2 linked regions of the Homo sapiens genome follow. The protein of the gene in region 2 purifies or fractionates together with the protein of the main gene of each other region. This does not show direct contact. Each region holds a gene or a part of one and is shown on either strand. Other genes may lie near its edges.

Region 1 (3,236 bases), on a different chromosome or scaffold from region 2:
TAATTGCTGAGGTCAGTAATTTTGTTTTAATTAAAAAAATCCACAGATGCTTGTTCTTATTAAAGGGAAGGTGGCTTTAGTCAAGGTAAATATTCTTCTGCTCTCTTGAATCCAGTTTGTAATCCTTCTTTCACCTTCTCTCCAAACTTGAGCATTCACAGGGTAAAAGTCCCATTTTCCCAATTTCTCGTTTTGCTTTATGCTTCAAGGTATACATGAGCTTGCGCTCCTTAAGCAGGCTATAAAGGCAGGCATCTAATTCCTCCTGGCTTTGTTGCATGCCCTATTTATGAGCCAGCAAAATATGTTTGGCCACATGTTTACACCAGCAAAGAAATATGTCTATGGAATGGAAATGTGTCTGCACTAAGTCAGTTGTCAACGTCTATTTAAACAGACTTAAATTTGTGCCTGCATGTTTCTAGCTCTCAAGATACAAAAACACTTTATCCCTCATTGCCACTGTTTTACAAGTTGGATTTTTTAAATCAATGTAATTCTGTTACCACATTTGTGCATATACTTTAACTATATCCCTGTCCACTTATCCAAAGAGCAAATTAAAATAAATATTGTTGTTACCTGATAAAAGTGTCTGGTTTCATTTGGATGAAAAACACTTGGATGTTTTTCCTGCCCAATAAATTGGTTTCTGTTGCTTCCAAATAAAATTTGTTATATTTTGATCTTATAGATGGAATTATTCTAACATTCCTTAATTGTTTTGTAATAGTCACTTTTCTCAATAAAAACCAAAATAGTAATAATGTGAGCTAAATCACAGTATTTCTTACAGTTAAATGCTGTATTCTTGGTACCTTTGTTTGTATGGGTTCCTTTATTTATAAGATCATTCTTGAAATACATTATTTATCTGTAATAATTATGATTAGCTGCATTAAGGAATGAATAATTTTCAACTGGTGGTTTTTCACAGCCAGTGATAAATCCCCTAGAGCAGGGTTTATAGAGAATAAGAGTTCAATAAGCATTTGTGAAATAAATCTTTAGCAGGTTATACAATATTTAGCATGCCTGAGAGGATGGAAACATTTCAGAAGTATAAAAATCAATGCAATTGGCTAAATTGGGAAATTATTAGTCTTTTCACATTTGATCTTATTTTCTGACCTCATTTATAAAGTATTGACATCAGTTTTCAAGTCACTAAATTTATCCTCTGAGAAGAAATCAGTACAAAAGAACAGCGCTACAGTATTTTCCATACACATTTGGGAAGCTCTAAATGTTCTAAAGTTCAAATAGTTCCTGATTTCAGATGCTGAGTGTACTTAGGAGAGTGGCACTGTTTTAATATACGAGGTTTGTTGTTGTTTTTTAATATTGAAGCTTCTAAAAATGTCTCAAACACAAAAAATTCCATGGCTCTGAAATTTAGACTATGACAATAATTAAGAAAATGCAGAAAGGGCACTGGTAGATTTTTAAAAACTATTTTAATACAAGATTAATAGCAATTTTCTATCCAAATCAGAAATGAAAAATCTTAACCCAAATAATATTCATTTGACAGTCACATAAAATTTTAGATTTGATTGGTGCACACATTTATCCTGCATATATATTATGTATATGCACAGAGAGACCTCACTATTATGCCATTGTTAGGGGTCTTTTTTTGGAAGTACCTCATTACAAGGCAATGTCAAAGGTTCCAGTAACTACTCAACTTTGAATGAAGTTCAAAATGTCCCCATGCTAAGCTGAGTCTGTGCCATAGCAAACCATGATATAGCAAGTCTCCAGAATGTGTACAAATCAATACTCTCTTTGTATAAGTTGGTCTAAAACTAAACACTGGCTAATGTCTCCAACAAGGAGGAACACATTACAAATTTATAAGTTATGGTTTCCTTTACTCTTCTGTTGGCAAAGCTAAATTGTGTTTTTAAATAAAAATCAGGTCTGTTCGTTAGTAAGTAAATGGAAATGTGTTTAAATTTCTGCAAGTTTTAGGTAAAACTTGCATTTCCTAATGCGTCTAGGTTTAATCAAATCATTTGATAATTAGCTTTGCAAAAAGAAGTAATAAAAGAATCACATCTCAGGAATATGTTAAGGTTTTTTCCTCCTTAGGGACTTTAGTTCGTGTTCAGTCTGTAGCCGAAACATGTATGTAATGGCAAAAGAATTAAAGAAGGCTAATGTCTGCAGCAGGGAATATAAATTAAAAATCAGGGTTCTGCCTGTAATAATATTTTCAATGTGTTTGCTTTAAAGAATGTTACTTTTATAATTATTACTACTTATCAATGAATAATAATGTTTTTCAGTGTAGACAAAATAGTATTTTCTATCCCTTACATTTAAAGCAGGTGATACAAGTTACTTGATGCTAGCTAGGTAAGTCATTGTAAGGGAGACAGATTTCTAGTGCTAATGTTCTACGATGGCTATAATCAAAGTACCAACTTGGCCTTCGTGAAAATGACAGAAGGTTGTCATGGTTGTCCTTCAATACAGAACCATAAACAGAGCTCTTATTGGTAAATTTGTAATTCATTCTTCTCTGCTAAAGACTTTAGCCTCTGTTTAGCTTTTGTTGTGACACATACAAAGTATAATATATACCAATTACAGACGTGTATTTCTGTTAGAAAAATACATATTATAACTAAAGAACATGTAAATAGAGGCACTTCAATAAGCTAAGTGTTTGCAGTTATGAGCATCACCCACCAATTTCTAGTGTCAGGTTTCAGTGAGCCCATTCCTCTCTATTCATAACAAAAGTTATGATATGATTACAGAATTTAGGGAACATCAGAGCAAATGAGGGGCAGGTCATAAAAAATAATGAAGCCTCATTGCATCCCCTATCACTATGCTGAAATGAGAAAAAATAATTCGAGGGTTGAATTCCAAAATACTTACTGAAATAGGGTAACTAGGTTAAGTGAAATCCTTTAGGGCCAAAACATTTCTCATGTTAAATTAGTCTGAAAATCATATGACATAGTAGTATGATGATAAAAACTAGGAAGTACAACTTGAATGATATTTTGACCACATCCATGCAGGGTGCTAACACTGTGACATCATTAACTGATATCATTTCAGCTCTCTGCCTGGCTCATTATGCATCACTATATCTCATCAATATGAATCATATTGATAATGAAGGTGTTGAAACAAATGAAGCAGGCGTTTATATATTAACTGTGTGTTTAGTGCGTATAGAACATGGGTTCACATTCACTAATATTATGTGTATT
Region 2 (7,558 bases):
CAGCCCTAGAATGCTGAGGGACAGGGGAGGGTTGGGCCGAGGGGTTTCTGTTCTTCCAAGCCAGCCACCCTAACCTGCGCGGCTCTACGGGGACGCTGCAGAGGTCCCAGGCAATGGGAGGAGTAGGGCGGATGGAGCAGCCGCAATGCCCGGGCGCTTAGGGCAGCGTTCGCCGCATTCCCTGCGGGTCTGTCCAGCCGACCTGAGCCGAGAGAGAGCGGCTTCTGTCCGCCCGCGTCCCCCCACCTTCTTCCCCTAGTCGGGCTCACCCTCCACACGTCAGTGTACCCGCCCTCGGCCAGCCGCGGTCACCAGCTGCCGTCACCTCCCCCGCATCCCTCACCCGTGGCCTCGGGCGCTGCGGGCTTCTGAGATCCTCCCTCCTCGACCCTGCCTCAACCAATTCCCAGAAAAACCGTTGGGTTTCCGCTCCCGCCCGCGCCTGTCCTGCCTCCCCTGCCTCGACCCCACTGCTGGCAGCTCTGGGCTGGCAGCCCAGAGCCCACCCGCGCCTCTCTGGCTGCGTGGACTGCGCAATTCGAGCGGGGACGCAGAGTCTCTGAGGCCGACCCGGTTGCTGAATTCGCATAGCCCTCCGCGCCCCAACTCTCCCAGCAGACCCCCTCCAAGTTCCTTCCCGGACAGCTGCCTTTCCCTACCCCAGTTCCAGCAAGTTACGAGATCTGCCCGGGTCGCGATCATGGAGCCCCAAGGCCTCCCTCCAGGCCCGCTGCTCCCTACGGCTCAACGGGGTGGTGGCACCGCTCACTTGGAGCCAAACCTTTTCCCAAGGCAGGAGTGGACATAGAGTGGAAGTAAAAGGAGGACCCCAAGCTCTCGATCACATGCCCTCCACTCTAGAGCGCCCAAACCCACCAGTTCCAGCAGAGAAATGCTAGAAATGTATTCTAAGGAAATCTGGGTGTGTGTGGTTTTTCGCTGGATGGGGGAAAGTCCTTAAAGAAAATGAACTCTCCACTCTGTTGTCCTTAGATCTCAGACAAGACTGACAACACCAACCCTACTGCCAGCAATTCCCCTGAGGACAAGGTCATGATATTCCCACCCCAGTCCCCAAACACATAACACACACAAACATATCCTATTAGCATACACTAAAGGACAGTCAAAGGGATTCATTTGAAAAACTAGAACTACTCCTCCCTGCAACTGCGCCCACTCCAGCCACACTCCGCAGCCCAGGAGACAGCCACAGTTCTGTCACAGAAGGCAGTTAATTTTGGGGGGGTTGGAGGAAGCTCCCTAAAATCGATGCTCCTGGCCACATGCTTTACCCATCTATACATCAAAGAAGTTGAGCTTCTAAATCCTAGGGTCACTTCTGGCTCTGATGGTTTGTGAGCATGTCAGAGCCACAGGAGAAGGGAGGAAGATGTCTTGGTCCTGAGCTGACTCCAGTGAAGTCACCTAATGGGTGTGCCTCCTTGGAAGAGACTGCCAAAGACAATTGCAGGAGGAGGGGGTGAGCAATTAGATGGAGGCAGAGAGTCCAGAGACCTGGAGGCTAAGCTGGAGCCAGTGCAGATGGGATTGTGGGCAATGCCATACCCACATTGTATGTCAGCTCAGCTGCAAGGCCCAGGATCCCAAAGACGGGCCAGGTTCTCCGCTTCATTGAGGCCTTCCAGTGAGCACTTTCTCAGGAGCTCAGAGTTGCTCCAGGCAACGGGAACTGTGGCCTAACCTACCCCAAAGCCAAAGAGTGGAGATGACAGCGATGGCCGGCTCCTTTGGCTGGAAGGCTGAGGTAGTCAGGGAGAGATGAGCGACTTTCCTACCAGCCTTTGGCTACCTTCTCAGAACAATGGATAGAAGGGTCCTACTCCCAGATTCTGCCAGGCCAGCTTCCAGTCAAGGTCAGGCCTGGTCTGAGGAGAGCGGGTAAGGCCAGGGAAGGGAGAGGACAGAGCCCAGAATAAGCCTCGATGTCTACAGCCCTCCTACCAGGACTTGATCTGTTTTTCAGTGTTTGGCTTGATCACTGCTTTCTGAGACAAGACTAACGCAGAGAGGGGCGACAATGGGGCAGGAAGGGAGTACAGGACGGGGGCTGGGGGATTCTGACAAAGGGGCTAGGCCCCCATCCCCACATCTGGATTGCTTCAGTTTTCCGTTACTAGTAGGTACAGACAGCCCCGCTGCTCCAGGTGGGGGGTTGGGGGGGCCCTCTCGCCTGTCTTTACACAACTGCAAATCGAAACCAGGTCGGTTTTGAAAGGAGACCTAGATCAACTCTCCCCCGCCCCTCCCCCCGTGTCTCCCGCCCCATCCCTTCGCCCTCCCCCCACCCCCACATCCCAGGGAATCCAAGGAAGGTTTGAATCCCGCTAGCTGCGTCCAACCAGGCGAGGGAGAAGTTTAGGGGCGCACAGGAGCCGAACCCCAGAGGTGGGAAGAGCCTCCACGGCCGAACTTACCTGCCTCGAGTTCCTGAGGGTGCTCTGCAGGTCCGCAGAGGGGCTGAGAGAGCGCCGCGGGTTGCTGGCAGGACAGGTAGGAGTCTCCGGGGTTCGCTGGCTCGGTGTAGGGGTAAGACAGGAGGTGGCCATACGGCCTGGAGTAGGACAAATTGGGGGAGGCTGCGGTTGTAGGGGACAAGCCAAGCGGGTAGGCAGCCGCTACCGACGGGACAGGGGCGAGGTCTGGGAAGACAGCTTTGGAGGCGTCCCGGCCGGGGAGGGGGCAGGGCAAAGAGGTCATTGTGGCCAGGGCCCGGGCAGAAGGGCCATGGCCCGGCACGTAGTCCGCTCCCGCTGCCAACTCTCTTTTCCAAGCCTCCGGCGTTGGGCCGGACGGGCCCCCCAGCCAGCAGCCCCCACACTTAAGATCCCGGAGAAAGTGTCTCTCTGAGCCTCTTTCAGCGGAGAACGCGCGCCTGGGAAAGGGGTTCCGGGGGGGTGCCCCCCATGACTTTCCCCTCCCCCCCTAAATCCATGGGGGCCCCCTCCTCTCCATCGGGTTCGGTTCCCGGGACCCGACGGGGGCCCCGCCCTCTTAGACGTCCCGGATTGGCTACCGCCCGCGGTGACCTCACGGAGACTTGCAGCCGGGCCCCGCCCCCCGGGACAGCCCGCTGTAGAGAAGTGGTAAATGGGAGAGGGGCGGTGCGCATGCTCCAGGCCGGTCTACCTCGGGGTCTCCTCCGAGAGGTGCTGGGGTTGCAGAGCGATTGGTGCAGTCCAGGAACCTCGGTTATAATGGCAGAAATGCTAGAGAGGTGGCGAGACTGGATGCCCAAGAGACAGGGAGCTGGGTGGTGGGCAGAGGCCCGGGGGCTGCGGAGACGCAGGGAATCTGCATTTGCAGTCTCCCGATTTCGGGGATCTGCACGTCGATTCTGGTCCAGCCGCGGTGGACCTGAAGGGGAGTCAAGTGCAGACCGCCAGCGCCAACCGCTTAGTCAGCGCGTCGGAATGCGCCGCTGCTGAGCGCCGGCAGTTTGTTGGTAAATAGACGCCGGGGCTGGGAGGGTGCCGCCCGGCGCCCAGCCTGCCCCGCACGCGTGTGGCGCGCACGCCCCCGCGGGGCGCCCTGGGCCTGGCACGCCGAGACCGCCGCCGCTGCACCCCACCGCCCTGCGTGCTGGCTTCCGCTTCCGGCAGGGGCCCTGGTTTGGTTGCGACACCGCAGCTCCTTGCAGGCCCCCGAGGCTGAAGAAGGGATCCGCCCTCTGGGCTTTAGCCTGTGCGGTGCCCCGCCTTACCTGGCGCCGCAGGGGGCTGAAGTGTTGCTTGAACCCGGACGAAATCTGGGAGTGGGAGATGAGTCCAGTTGGATGGCTCCTGGGCGGGCACAGGAAATACTGCAGGCCAGTCTCCCTGGCGCATTTTCCAGGCTGTGTTCAGGACTTGCTTCTAAACATTAGTATCCATGGCCTCGATGGACACGTGTCCACGTATACAAGCATTTATTGACACGTGTACACAACTACACAGGGACTCCATTCAAATACAACATGTATACTCACATATACCAACATGGAGGTACCTACACTGATGTTCACACTAGCATTCCTCTATAAAAAGAGAGGTTCATTTGTAAATCTGCAAACACTTTAGGCTGTGATGTGTATACATCTACATACCTAAAGATGAATTAGCACTATCCCTAAATAAAAACACTATCTAGTACTTGTCTCTTACATGGATTCATGAGTATACAAGTCAAATCACTGGTGTACCTACTAGAAAATACAGAAGATCCAAGCATATAAAATGTATACTTGTGTTCCTGCTCTATGAGAAATACCTGTCCACACACATCTAAGATGCCTTATGTTAGATGTGTCCCTAAACTGCCAGTCTTCACAAATTCCCCAGCATACCCAAACACCTGTTCCCACTTTATGCAACTGGGCAGGCATATTCATGTTTGTACACACACACATGCTCTCATTGTTAGCGTTCAGAGTGAAGGTAGCCCTCGTAGAACTGGGAGATGGAAGAGGATGGTGATAAGAAAGAGAGATCAGGCAAGGTGGCTCAGGCCGGTAATCCCAGCATTTGGCCCAGGCAGGCAGATCGGTTGAGCTCAGGAGTTTGAGATCAGCCTGGGCAACATAGGGAGACTCATCTCTACAAAAAGTACAAAAATTAGCTGGTCATGGTGGTGTATGCCCGTAGTCCCAGCTACTCAGGAGACTGAGGCAGGAGGATCACTTGAGCCCTGGATGTTAAGGCAGCAGTGAGTTGAGATCATGCCACTTCACTCCAGCCTGACTGACCGAGTGAGACTCTATGTCGAAAAAAGAAGGAGGAGGATGAGGAGGAGGAGGAGGAGGAGGCAGCAGCCTGGAAGAATAGGAGAAAACACTGGCTGGGGAATGGAGCCCAAGCCTCCTTAGACAAAATCAATCAAATGGGTGTGCAGGGGTGGTTGAAGTTCAGTCAGGTGTCCTGCAAGGAGGAAGAGCAAGTCTATTTCAAACTAGACTCCCCAGTGGAATAGATAGAGGTGAGTTTTTCCAAGGAGAGACTCTAGCACCTGGCTTGGAGCTCTTCATCTTGAAGCCTTGGAGCCGGGAAGAAGGGGCTTTTGCAGGGCAGCTGGAGAACCCACTCCCCTCTCGTCCAACAGGCTGTGGAGGGTTTGCTCAGTAGAGAAATGCTTATTCTATGTGGGACTACCTTTCTCCCTTTCTTCCTTAATTCTCGCCATGCCACCATCTCCTTAGAGCTGGAGCTGTGAACCTGTGAGGATATATATCCTTCTAAACCTTTCATTCTACCATCACCATTTTCCTCTACAGGGATGGAGGCAGCCTTACAGCAGTGCTGAGGAGAGTTTCCAGGGATGGCATCAAAGTTGTGCATCAAAGGAAGAGAATGTTTTTTGGGTGGGGTTGGCTGTGAGGGAGGGTTTCCCAAAGGAAGTGCTTTTGAGCTGGAGTTGACAGGATAAGTGGAAAGACATTCCCTCTTAGAACCATGTGCACAGAATCCTTTCTTGTCAGACCCAGGAAAGAAGGGCAGGCATGGGTTTTCTGGCAGGGTTCTGCCACAGTTGGCTTTGGGCATCCTCCAAAGCCAAGAGATCCCCAGTGCATACTTGTCTTAAGTTCTAAGCTCTCAGGGCTTCTCTGGACTCAGAGGATCTTCACCCCTATGCAGCAGCAGGACATACTCTGCAGCCCTTTGGAATTTATCAAGCACTCACAACATCCAAGTCCTGTGCGTGCATACACACACACACACACACACACACACACACACACACACACGCTCAAACTCCAGGCACTATTATCCCCATTTTACAAATGAGGAAACATCTCCTTCCATCATCACCTGTTTCTTCAAGGCTCCCTTCTCCCATATTCCAGAGGGTGTGGGGCTGGGGCACCAGCTTGGGATAACCTGGGGTCTCCTCAGAAGCAGGCTCCCCAGGGAGGGATCCTCTCCAATAGGAGTCTCATCTCACCAACCTCAGGAAAGGTGGACGTGGTGAGGATGTGGGCTGGGAAGCACAGTAATCTCGTATTGGATCAGAGGGGAGAGAGGATGCTTGCTTAGGAAAAAAAGTTGAACCAATACAGAGACGATTAGCATGGCCCTTGCACCAGGATGACATGCAAATTTATGAAGCATTCCATATTTTACAAAAAAATTTTTAAAGAGGGAGAGCTGGCTTGAGACTCTTGAGGCTTGGGTTCTGGTCCAGTTCAGCCACGAAGTTGCTGGTTGGGATATTTTGCATCAGTCATTTGCCTTCTCTGAGACTGGTTTACCCAGAAGGGATAAAAGAACTGAGCTGGACTAAGAACTCCAAGCCTTTGTCATTTGCTTTATGACAAATTGCAAAAACTAAAATCCAAAACCATGAGAAAACCAAAAAGAAGAAGTGGGGGGAGGAGGAGGGATGGAAAGAAGGAAGAAAAAAAGAGAACTCTCTCCTGTCACTACCAATACCTCAGGCCCGGGATCTTCACAAAAGCCAGAAGTGGCTCTCCCAACTTTCCCTCACAGATCCTCTCGCTTAGCGCAAGGGGCCTGCTCGGAAAACTCCAGCACCCTGGTGATGCCGCGGGGACAGACGGCGGGGTCCAGAGTTGGGGGGGAGGGGATACGGCGCCGCGGGGCTCTAGGGATTGGGCCGAGGCGCAGGGATTGGACCTGATCCGCTGGGTGGACGGTAGTTTGCTTACTCTTCTTGGGTCGCCGGGCAAAGGCCATCGCAACCGCTCCGGTAATAATTCCTTGCGCAGCACAAGCACCCACGGAGGTGAGATGCATTCCTTGTTTGATCACCCCGAGTTCCGACCTTCCCGGTAGCGGGAATTCCCTCCGAACCAGCCCCTTCCCTGGCGGTCTATCACGGGCACCCCTAACACTTGGTGAGTGCGCAGTGCTCTCGGCAGTCTCTGGGCTCCATACGATGCCTACCGCACGCCCTAGCAGAGGAGGTCTCTGTCTGCCCCTGCAGCCGGATGCCGAGGTCTGTAACCCCGAGCCAGCACTCAGAGCCGCACCTGCGCGGATGTGCCAGCGGAACAGAGATTCCACCGCGACCATAGTCCTCCTCACTCCGCGGCCCTCCGGGATTATCCGTGCCCTTTCTCCTCCATCCCACCCACCGGCCCCAAAACGAACTTGTAGTATAGTATTGTCATTCGCAGTGATTTTCAGTTTTATTTGGAAGGACCTTTCTTTCTTAGTAACTCAGGTTGAAGAAACTGATTAATTCGGTTTGGCGGCGGGAAGGAAAGAATCAGATCTTCGCCCCAGCCTGCCTGAGCTCGGCCCCGCGCGCTGTGGATAGAGCCCCCGCATTCAGCGAGGCCCGGAGAATGGGCAGTCTGAAGAGACCTGCGTCCCCCCTCTCCGATTTGACTTTTCCTGAAATTTGGAATTATTGCGCCTCTTTTTCTCTTTCTGATCGAGCATTTAGTGCTGGCGCAAGCCGGGCAGCCGACTGGTTACTGAGCCCACGGCCAGCCCGGCCTTGTGCTTCCATTTGCGCTCACCTCAGCAAGCCCCTGAGCGCTTTCTCAGGGATTGGAGTTCCCCCTCATTTCCCAAATAACCCTGGAGAAGCTCCCGGG

Evidence for each region.
Region 1: the proteins of DLX4 (region 2) and GPC6 purify together in Homo sapiens (affinity purification with mass spectrometry; 2 studies listed by BioGRID and IntAct, with this or other methods). This does not show direct contact.

Annotation. Positions count from the first base shown.
Region 1 is NC_000013.11:94,405,604-94,408,839, reverse strand, and holds the end of GPC6 (glypican-6 precursor), read right to left. Parts: 3' UTR 820-3,236; downstream 1-819. UniProt on the Homo sapiens protein: Cell surface proteoglycan that bears heparan sulfate. Putative cell surface coreceptor for growth factors, extracellular matrix proteins, proteases and anti-proteases. Enhances migration and invasion of cancer cells through WNT5A signaling.
Region 2 is NC_000017.11:49,964,632-49,972,189, reverse strand, and holds the start of DLX4 (homeobox protein DLX-4), read right to left. Parts: upstream 3,001-7,558; 5' UTR 2,722-3,000; coding exon 2,439-2,721; exon of another isoform or gene 1-2,438. UniProt on the Homo sapiens protein: May play a role in determining the production of hemoglobin S. May act as a repressor. During embryonic development, plays a role in palatogenesis.